3 linked regions of the Homo sapiens genome follow. Changing the gene in region 3 together with the main gene of any one other region gives a genetic interaction. Each region holds a gene or a part of one and is shown on either strand. Other genes may lie near its edges.

Region 1 (3,656 bases), on a different chromosome or scaffold from region 3:
CTGAGGAAAACATGCCACTGTTTTTCAGATGTGAATGAAATGATACTTTTTCCCCCGACATAGTTTCCTTGCTTACGACTCCACACTGTTCTCCTTCAATCCCTTTCACCACTGAAACATTACATGCAAGATTTGCTGGCATGCCCCTTGACTTTTCATGCTTAAGGGGAAAAATGTTTGTAGCTGATGTTTGAGTCCCAGGAGCTCGGTGAAGAAAAAAAAAAAAAGCAACGCAAGGAAAATTGCTCTAATGGTATATCCTTCCTAAAGCTTGAAGTTTCATAGGTAAAAGGAGGGATAAACATTCCTTCCTGAAAGCAAACAGTCAAGGCTTTTTCCCACTCAACTATCCCTGAACCTTTTGTAATTTCCCCGAGGCCTAAACCCAGGGCACAATTAATTCCAGACCCTATTTTAAATCTAATCCGTCTCCTATTTGCAACCTGCCTGCAGGTGGGTCTTTTCTTTCTAAATTATAAATCTGAACCTGCGTCAACCTCTTACAACACAAGGCATTTAAAGCTTCCTGGAGCCACTGACCTGGTGACGCTGTAGTGCACGTCTGCATTTGAAAGTAAGCAAGAGAACAGAAAGCGAGCAAGAGAACCGCAACCTTTACCACCTTGGCGAATTCTTGCCGGGACCTACATATTAAACAGCACTTGCACACAGACGCCTCAAGTCGTCCTCTTTAGAGTCGTCACTTAGACCTGCAAGGGGCGGGGGACCAGTGGAAACCCAAACAGAAACTTTCACCATTACAAAGGCGAGTCCCCATTGATTATGGTAATTGTTTTGCTCAGGTTGTACGGGTATGGCCAATTTTGTTTGAAAGCTCGCTCTTTCTCTGCGCTTTCCTGTCGAGTTCCCTTCAGGTTCTGGTTTCCTCCGACGGTGGCAAGGGATGTTTTTCACGCCTTTCACCACTTTTGCCCGCGCCTGCGTCCCCTGCCCGAGGTCCCAGGCCGCGGCGGCGGCGCGGTGGGTTCATTAGCGGGCGCGCCGGGCCCGCGCAGCGCTGTCTGCAGCCGCGTCGCCGCATCCATCATCATTACATCAGCGCGGGGAAGTCCACGCCGAGTTCTCCCGGCCCCGGCGCGCCCCAGTCAGCGCGCCAGCAAACAGAACATGCTGGATTGCTCAGAGACGGCTCTGGGTGTCTGGGGGCAGAAGGGGTGCTCCCAGGCCCGGCTTTGATCCGCATTTCTGAAGCTGGCTTTGGGAGACAATGCATCTCCGCCAGCCAGGCCGCGGGAAAAGTGAAAAAAGGGCTGGGGGCCATGTGGGGGTGGGGAGGTGAGCTCCAGCGCCAGCAGCGCCTGGCAGTCTCCCTCCAGTGCAGAGAAGCGGTCTGTATCAAGGCGTATCAGAGTGGTCACCCTGCTCCTCGGAATATTCACGGGCATTTGCAAACTCTACAGTTGGCCCAGCCAAATTTCCAGCAAACACTGGCAAGGGCCGGCCCTGGTTGCGTTCAGAGGGCTCTTTTAACTGGCTGAATTCAGGGAGCTGCAACCTTCCAGGTACTTTGCAATGCAACCACCCTGAGTGTCGCATTATAATAAAACATTGGGGATCCCTTGAAAAGCCTTCACAAAACCAATAGGTGTGTGCTTCGCTCACAAAACGTCGAATTCACCTTCTATGAACCTGGCCCCCAATGTGTTTTTCTTCATTAGCTGCCATACATAGATTCAAGTGCTGTGAATGGCTAAGACAGACACATCGCCTCATTGTCTTGAGCTCAGGGAGGCCCTGAGTGGAGTCCCAATGTTCAACCTCAACAACCAGAGGCTTTCTGTAGTAAATAGAAAATATGAAAAGTCACAAGTGTGGGAACGTGAGAAAAAATTAGCTTTTCTCCTTTCAAGTCTCTGCAGTGAAACCTCTAACCCCCATGGGAGCAGGATTCCTTTATCGTTTAAACACTAAAATGTTTAAAAATAAAGCACCCATGCCAAAGCCAACGTTTAAAATGATGTTTGAAGTGAATAAAACAACTTTCTAATGTAGGGTGAAGTCGAACAGCATCCTTCAATCATGATAGTGCATCCTCCCTGAACAGCAGACTACTTCATTTATTTCCCTAAGCCAGTTGGTTTAAGTTGCCTAAACTTGGGCAAAAACTCTCTTCTCTTTTTTTTCTTAGTGTATTTCAAGATTTAAAACAACTAAGTTAAAAGCCTATTTAATGATAACCCGATCTGTTTCTGATAGGTTAAAACAGCTACTGGCAATAAGAGATCAGAAACAGAAGACATTCCAGGCGAGGCAGTGCTATTAACAGCACCATGGCTCAGCCTTAAGTGAGAAATTATTCCGTGTAGTTTAGGGAACTATTACTCCAGTGGAAGAAGGTTTTCCTCCAGAGAAATAACATTTATTTACACCTGCCTGTATTTTCATAAGCTGAATAATCTTGATTTGCTGTTTTAAATATCCAGAAGAAAGCAGCTTGTCATAAGGATTTTTGAGGCAACCTACCCTGTAGCACTGAAGAGTGACATTGCTCTCATACTTATATTACTAGTAGATCAACTGCTACTTCAAGATGCTACTCCCGGATTAACCATCCAGGTAAAACTACTATTAAAGATATGTACCTCCCTGTAGCTATTTAATAACCCATTTCTCAAAAATAAATAAATCCTTTAGAAAGAGAATTTTTTTTTCAGAATCAAGAAGTACAAACTAATGTTGATTTGAACTTTTTGATCAATTCTGGAAGTGAGAAATAGTCTGAGTTTCAATGAGCAAAATGCAGGGAATTTTAAACATTTCATTGGATTTCATGTATTCATGCACCACAGAAAACCTCTTATAGGTTTTTAATGTGGTTGATGTTTCCTTGTGTTCAAAATATCTTCTGAGGGCAAAATCAATTAGATATGCATAACCTTTGTGACACTCTAGCAGTTCCCAGGATTCCTAAGGCTTCATTTCCTCTCCCTTCCCTGTCTGTGTTGCCTTTTTCTGCAAGGGTTGGGCGGGGGGGGGGGGGGTGGAAAGCCCAACTTCATAAGTTCTTAATGAAATCTTCATTAATTTTTAACCATTTTTTCATGTATAATTATTTTACCTGTATATATGATTATTTTTCCATAATCAGGAAAGCCTAGAATCTTAACTCCAAATAGGAAAGCTTCTATCTGTCCGCTTTGCCATTTGGTAGCTCAGGGTTCCCCAAATCCACTGCCTAGTGTCTTCAATCTTTCTTTCCTACATTTCTGATGCTCCTAATCACAGATAAGCAGTATTCATGACAGACATACCCAAATGGAATTACTCCAAGGGGAACTAAATTACTCTAAGGGGAAATAATTGCCTGGCTATGGATTAAGTGAATTTGGTTTTGGTAAATTAACACTATCTAAACTTTTAAGAAATCCATATATTTAACTTCAACCACTGAAAAGCTTATTTGACATGAAAGTAATCATTGCTACTGCAGTTAAAATCACAAACAACATTTCTGTGAGCCAGTTTTACTTTTCTGCCATTTGTATTTAAAAGAAAAGATCATCAGCTACTCTTCCCCTGTTGCCAGAAGTACTTGATGAGAAACATTTGAGGGGAGTATGAGGTCTCCATCTAATACTTGTTACCATTTCTCAGTTCTGTAAAACTATGAGTCCCACGTGCCTTGGTTAGGCACT
Region 2 (3,656 bases), on a different chromosome or scaffold from region 3:
AAGCTTTCTCTTCTGGCTTTTTCTTTTACTATTTAGTATTATTTGATTTAAACATCAAAATTTTTGCTTTTGAATTTTTCAGTAAGTCATTTCCAATGAATCAATCTCACTATTATTCCCTTTTTCACTTGCCTGTAACAGTCACCAAAATAGGTAAAAGCAAACTGTGGATGCCTTGGGAAAAAAATTCTTTCCATTCACTGATTAGATTTACAGGAAGATTGCCAATGGTATCCAGAGTTGTGGAATCAAAGAAAGCACTGAGGTCACAGGCCAAATCACAGCTGACACAGGCAAACAGTTGCACAAGTGGAATAGAATACAATGCCTGATTCTCACTTGTTGTCTGAAAAAACAATAAAAATGAAATAGGTAAACAGACTTCTACCAGAACACTACAAATAAAGCCAATATAAAGAAAAGCCCCACTTTCATTTCTTTGAATTTTAAAACGAAAAGCAGTTGAGGTGTGTAATCTCAGGAGAAACATAAAATTTTACATCAAAATAACTTTTTTCTTCAAAATTAAATACCATGAATAGAATCATTAATAAACAATTTATTCTCAAGTACCCTTTTTAATTTCTAACCCATGGAAGGAAACACTAAGTCAGACACATTAAATACACATTTATAATCTTCTCAGTAGCCCTACAAGTTGTAAGTTATTATTTTAAAATAAGAAAATCGGCCAGGCACAGTGGCTCATGCCTGTAATCCCAACACTTTGGGAGGCTGAGGCAAGTGGATCACATGAGGGCAGGAGTTTGAGACCAGCCTGGCCAAAATGGTGAAACCGCATCTCTACCAAAAATATAAAAATTAGTCGTGCATGCTGGTGGGCATCTGTAATCCTGCTATTTGAGAGGCTGAGGCACAAGAATTGCTTGAACCCAGAAGGCGGAGGTTGCAGTGAGCCAAGATCGCACCATTGCACTCCAGCCTAAGCAACAGAGCGAGATTCTATCTCAAATTTAAAAAAAAAGAAAGAAAGAAAGAAAGAAAACTGAGTCTCAAATAGTTTAAGTTTAAAACTCTAAGTCACATAGCTAATAGCAGGCAAAGCAGAGATTCAGACCAATCCAACCCTGACTGACTTGCTGCCTTGGAGCCCACAAGTAATATACCTCTGGTTGCTTTGGGTCAAAAATTACACTAATTCCCTCTGAATCTGCTACTATTTAATGCATTACTCTCACAATATTCACACAGTATGTTTTAGAAATAATCTAATTATAACCAAAAAAGACCAAAATAATTGTCATTAACAGATAAAACCTGAAAGGGCTGTGCTGCAAATATTACAATAAGCTAATGGAGAAGGCATTTTAATAACAGGAGATTTGGTCACTGAATGATGCTGGTAGTCATTAAAAATCTATCATTTTACTATTCTGTCAAATAGTAGCTGGTAAGAAGAACATCTATAAAGTGTTTTAAATTATACAAAGGAACCAATTACAATCATCACTTAAAGAATGAGATTAGTAAATAGTTCTGATGCAAAAGTATGTACAAAAACCCACAAGAGGTGATGACATATCGGGTTAATTTACCTCCAACCAAGCCAACATGGAGCACATGATGAAGTCCCACTCACTCTCTGCCAAAGGGGATGAGCAGTATTTCAGAAATAGGGAAAGAAACCGGATTATTTCTATATTTACACCCAGTACCTCTGGACTTGCTTCTGATAGATTACTGTGATAAAGATAAAAACAAAAGACAATAAAAGATTATATTGACATTCAATTAGAAAGTATGCTACTTTAAATCTTACATACTTATTTATAACTGACTTAAATGTCTACCATAATTTCTCTACAAAATTGTGACACAGATACGTAATCTTTGTCTGAATTGTATACTGAAGGAAAAACATAGTATAAAGTATCACCTACCAACTGAAAAGAAAAATATCTTCATGCTCTTTCTTCCAGGATATTATGATTTTTAATATTCCATGTAATAGCTCTCCATCATCTATACTTTTGGTTTGCAGACAAGAATTGAAAATGGCAAGATGTCCAAAACCTCCTAAAGTAAAATTCAAAATGAAAATTAAAAATATTTAAGAACTATATCGCTACTATTAAAAAAAAGTCCACTTTGAGAAGTAAAAGACTTTCTTGAGAAGTGTTCAGGTTAAGAACTCTAATAATGACTTTTATCTAAGAGTCAACAAATGAGCTTATAAGCTCCAAAGGGCAGAGACCCTGTCTCCAAACCCAGCACCTAGCACACAATAGAGAATTTGGGGGAGGAGAAAGAGTGAATGATGCTGTAATTTAAACTGACTTATGCTGTTTTTGTTTTGGTTTCTTAAGTGCAGGACATATTCAGCAAACTCATCATTCAAATAAAAAAAACCCTACAGCTACAGAGTAGCTGGAAACAGCAAATGGAAAATAGAACATACTGTTTCATAATTTATACATTCATTCACTCAATAGCAGCTAGTACATGTGGTAAACTCTGATGTGGACTCACTCTTTAGAATCTCTACCATTCCTCAAAATCCATCCACTGGTGTATCTTAACACCCTCTGTCCCCAACCTTCTATCTTACATACCAGCCAAAATGAACAATCTGTACCCTTGTATGTTTTTGTGTACCTGGAATGCCCTTCCCCAACTATGTCCATATGGAAAACTATTTATCCTTCAACACCCAGTAGAAATATTTCTCTTTGTGAAATTGCCACTAACACCCTCAAAGCAGAGTGGAAACTCCTTCCTTTCTGCCACTTCTATACATAGCACATCTTTTTGCTACATCGGTTATCACATAATACAACTTTATGTTTGTCTTCTCTACAATAGGAACTACCATGTAGCAGGTGCTCATAAATGTTTATTAAATTAATAAACAAATGAAAAGTGCAGTGTTTTAAATACAACAGACGCTATTTTTGCCTTTATATGTTCAATCATTGATTGGCTAGGGAGAAATGAGGCACAGCTTTAAAAAGCTATAGATAGAAAAGAAATGGTTAGAAGGTATTTCTGGGCGTAAGTCTTCCCTTAAGGCCCAGCATTTTTGTACTGTAAAATGGTAACAGCCACTGTCTAACAACACTCATCCATATAATCTCAGAACAAATCAGCTGTAATTCAATTTACCTCTGCTAGATGTGGTCTTATATATTAGAAACAGTTCTTCATCTCAAGCAATAATTAAATTAATGAAATATTTATTATCAAGCAACTAACCATTAGTGCTGCAAAGATCTTTCTTAGTCCAGCCCAAAAGAGCAGGTATACATTGAGCACTAAATTCTTTCTTTTCTTCTTTTGACAAAAATGGACATAGACTTTGAATGGTATGCAAATTGCCTTCAGTTAGTGGAAAAAAACTGTTTAAAGAAAAAAAAAACACAAGTTAGATTTCTTCCAAACATACAGTTATTTTATATATTTCTTTTATTTAGACTACTGAAAAAGATAGATGAATAATTCTATCACATATAATTACATAAAAAGAAACTATGATAGATTTAACAAGTGCTGACTTGATGAAATTGGTTTTTTTTGCTCCTTTTCTCTTTTCTGCATAAATTTTTTAAATGAGCATATATAACTTTTCCCCATATATGATTTTTTAAAATTATACTAGCCACATGACATTATGTCCTCTTTTAAAAAAAAAAAAGAGT
Region 3 (3,396 bases):
CTTTCTACTTATAAGATGTTCAGTTGGCAGCTGGTTTATTGGGATGTAGCCCCATAATAAGCTGAGGACCGTAGTGAATGGCTTATCGCTTATGCGCCACTGCAAAGCTGAAAAATCTAAAGTTGAACTATCATAACTTGGGAACCATCTGTGTTTGGCACAAGTAAACACTTAAATCATAGTTACAAACTTGATTTAGAGTGTTGCCTTCTATTTCACAAAAACAAGTCTGAAATGTGTTTAATTGAACAAGAAAGAGGTGCATCAAGTTCAGCTCCTTATTATGTTCAACTTTAGAGAATTTTAAACCTAGCCTAATAATGTTTCTTTCTACATTCACACCTGCCCCTCACATGCATACAACCGATACCTAAAACATTACCTGAGTCAATGATCAGCTGGGCATAACCGTCCCAGTTTTTGTACACCGTGAAAAACTAAAAAGACATTATAGGCAATATCATGTACTGTAACACATATTCCAAAGGGAAAACGTCAATTCCAAAATACCTAGGAGCAAATGAGGCAACCAGGGCAGACACTAAAGCACTGAGCAAGATGCTGTCATGATGACTACTTATTTATTTCTATTTTATATGCGGGGAAACAGCTCAGTTATTACTCAAAGCCACACTTACCAAAGCCAGAGGTAAACTAGTACAAGTCTTTTGATTCTTAGCATTATATTCAATAAATTCACTAGGTATTCTCTAACTGTACTTTTGATGGGATATTGAAATCTTTAAAGGAGAAATTCCATGTTGGAACCAAGCAAAGGGTGGAATTTGACAAAGCAGCCCAACCACTTTGGCTTACAAAGTCCTTTATTTAGTTCCTACCCTCTTCATCTGCATAGTAAATCATAGGGTTCCCCCCCACCCCCACCACGAATAGCAGTTAATCATGGCTATTCTCCAAAAAGCTAGGTGCAAATTAACTTTATGGCTCCAGTCTATCTAATCTGAATGAATAAACAACCTAAAGGTTTGGGGTAAACCACAGCACAGAAGAAGCACCAGATCTAGGCTCCAGGCTGGTCTCTGCCATTGCTAACAGGGACACCAATTCCACAGAATCATCAGATTTTAAATGGCTGTTTTTGTATGTACCAGATAAAACTAGTGCAATTTTATTGCTGCTGGTACTTTTTTTTTTAAATTTTGGGATATACATTTTCAATTGGCTACTGTAACAAACTAAAGGGAATTTACAATACACTGTCGTACTGTTCATAAACTTCAAAATGAGAGTAGTGCCATGGAAGAAAAGAGATCCAGTTTTAATACCACTTTATGGCCAATAATCAGTATTTATTGTTTCTCATTTGTCAGGCACCATTCTAAGCTCTTTTAAAATATTCAGTCTTAACAATCCTATAGGCCGTTATCTCCGTTTTACAAAATAAAGATTGAAATAATTTATCCAAGGTTGCAGAGTCACTGCTGCAATCAGGACTTCAATGTTCTGCTGCACTGTCTTCATCACTGCTTTACTGCCTCTCAGATCAGATGCACGCCACTACCTAGCACACAAGAGGATGTGTGAACACCTCCTACTCATTCAACCTGACCTTGTCCTTGGCTCTTCTCCCTCGGTCTTAAGATTCCTCCTTCACCCCTCCCTCCATTTGCAGATCTCCAGGGTTAATTAAACCTTTCTACCTCTACCCAAACCCTTGTTTCCTCTGAACTGGTTCCAGCCTTTAAAATGCCCTATTCCCCACATGTTAAAAACTTAAGTGCTCATTGTGTTGCCTGTTCTTTAACCTTTTATGTCATGGTACCCTGATCAAGGCGGGGCAATCTCGTCCAACACAGCTTCTTCAACTTGCCGCAGCTTATTCCAAACTGCCTCTGCTGCCACTTGAGCTCACTCTCACGTGTCCTTTCCAACTGCATACAGCAGTCTACACCACAAACTCATGTTTGATTTCATACAATCCCGTGGCTTTCTTGTTCTGCCCCTTTGGGCTTAACCATACGCTCCTCCACTACTTAGTATAAACCCTGTTCCCAGGCCTCCATTAACTTTCACACTCAGGCTGATTACACACATATATTTAACAGTACAGTTTTACACAGAATGCTAAGAGCACTTTTCTTCATATTTTACAGAAGGGCTTGAAACATACAGACTATTCGTAATCATACAATAGCACATCCAAATCTAACTCCTAAATAGATGATGCATTATAATTTGTTTAGAATTTAAAGGCTTAATGGCAATAATCAGGGGAGGAAGAAGAGTATGTTTATTTTACATAACTGACGGAAAAATAAATTCAACAAATAGTAAATAGAATTTAATATGGTCTCATGCGCCCTGAAGGAGGTGGTGCCCGATTTGGAGGGGTAATTGCTATGTCCAAGTAATCTCCTATCTGGAACTTCTGCGACTGCAGGGTCATGGAATCATCAGTCCCCTTTCTGCCAGACATGGTGCTGCCAATCTCCTTAACTCTGTAAGAAAGAAAATCAACTGTTAATGGATCCAAATCAATGAAACCCAGTATGTACTACAAAGTGAATATGGCACTGGATTTTCTCCATCATTTTATAACACACTTCCAAAATTTAACTACTTTATTAAGCCAAACCACGTATTAATATAAACCCATATTCTCCCACTAACAAGATTCATTGAAGGAGTTATCTGTATCAGTTAAAACATACTAAAAACAAAGAGATTACAGGACTTAAAAATGAGAAGTTACCTACCGATAGCCAGGTCTTTTAACATCTGTAAAAACGATTGCAAAATTGAAGTGAGTGCCCTTCTTTCTAGCTTCTGGGTAGACTTCTTTTACTAAGCTTGTCAGTTCTTTCAAGGTTGCATCCATCCTGGATTTTTTTTAAAAAAGACATTTACATTTGCTTATTAATCAGCAATAATATTAAAAGGGATACTAACAATGAGTTAATTACATATATCTGAGTTGTGATTTACATTAGAAACTGCCAGGGTCTTATACTAGAGATTAATTTTAAAGCAGCTAAAAATACTATTTGCCTCCAAAAACTCCATGTACCAGCCTTACTGCTGGAAATTTCAATTAATTAGACTCTTAGTGCTAAAAGGGACTTCAGAGATTCTATATGCTATCTTCTGTTGCTACACAACACCTTATGGCCTAGTGATTTACCTAAGGGTAACTAGTCCAAATAAATCCAAATATGCAAAATAGATGTATCCCATTAGTTCTAAGACATGTACCCTTCCACATTTTAGCATCTCTGAAATTGGAATGTATCTTAGAATCAATGTACTAGGAAAGCATTTTCATACTGACGTTTTGTTTTTGAGAGAGTCTCGCTCTGTCGCCCAGGCTAGAGTGCAGTGGCGTGACCTCAGCTCACTGCAACCTCCGCCTCCCAGGTTCAAGCAATTCTCCTGCCT

What was found.
Region 1: of SAP18 (region 3) and GLI3, changing one enhances a phenotype caused by changing the other (phenotypic enhancement), as found in Homo sapiens cells (one study listed by BioGRID).
Region 2: changes in SAP18 (region 3) and LTN1 together harm fitness more than expected from each alone (negative genetic interaction), as found in Homo sapiens cells (one large-scale study listed by BioGRID).

The regions. Positions count from the first base shown.
Region 1 is NC_000007.14:42,227,111-42,230,766, forward strand, and holds part of GLI3 (transcriptional activator GLI3), read right to left. Parts: exon of another isoform or gene 541-3,656; intron 1-540. UniProt on the Homo sapiens protein: Has a dual function as a transcriptional activator and a repressor of the sonic hedgehog (Shh) pathway, and plays a role in limb development.
Region 2 is NC_000021.9:28,944,251-28,947,906, forward strand, and holds part of LTN1 (E3 ubiquitin-protein ligase listerin), read right to left. Parts: intron 3,357-3,656; coding exon 3,214-3,356; intron 2,038-3,213; coding exon 1,902-2,037; intron 1,702-1,901; coding exon 1,557-1,701; intron 347-1,556; coding exon 133-346; intron 1-132.
Region 3 is NC_000013.11:21,146,249-21,149,644, reverse strand, and holds the end of SAP18 (histone deacetylase complex subunit SAP18), read right to left. Parts: intron 2,841-3,396; coding exon 2,718-2,840; intron 2,460-2,717; coding exon 2,303-2,459; 3' UTR 548-2,302; downstream 1-547. UniProt on the Homo sapiens protein: Component of the SIN3-repressing complex. Enhances the ability of SIN3-HDAC1-mediated transcriptional repression. When tethered to the promoter, it can direct the formation of a repressive complex to core histone proteins.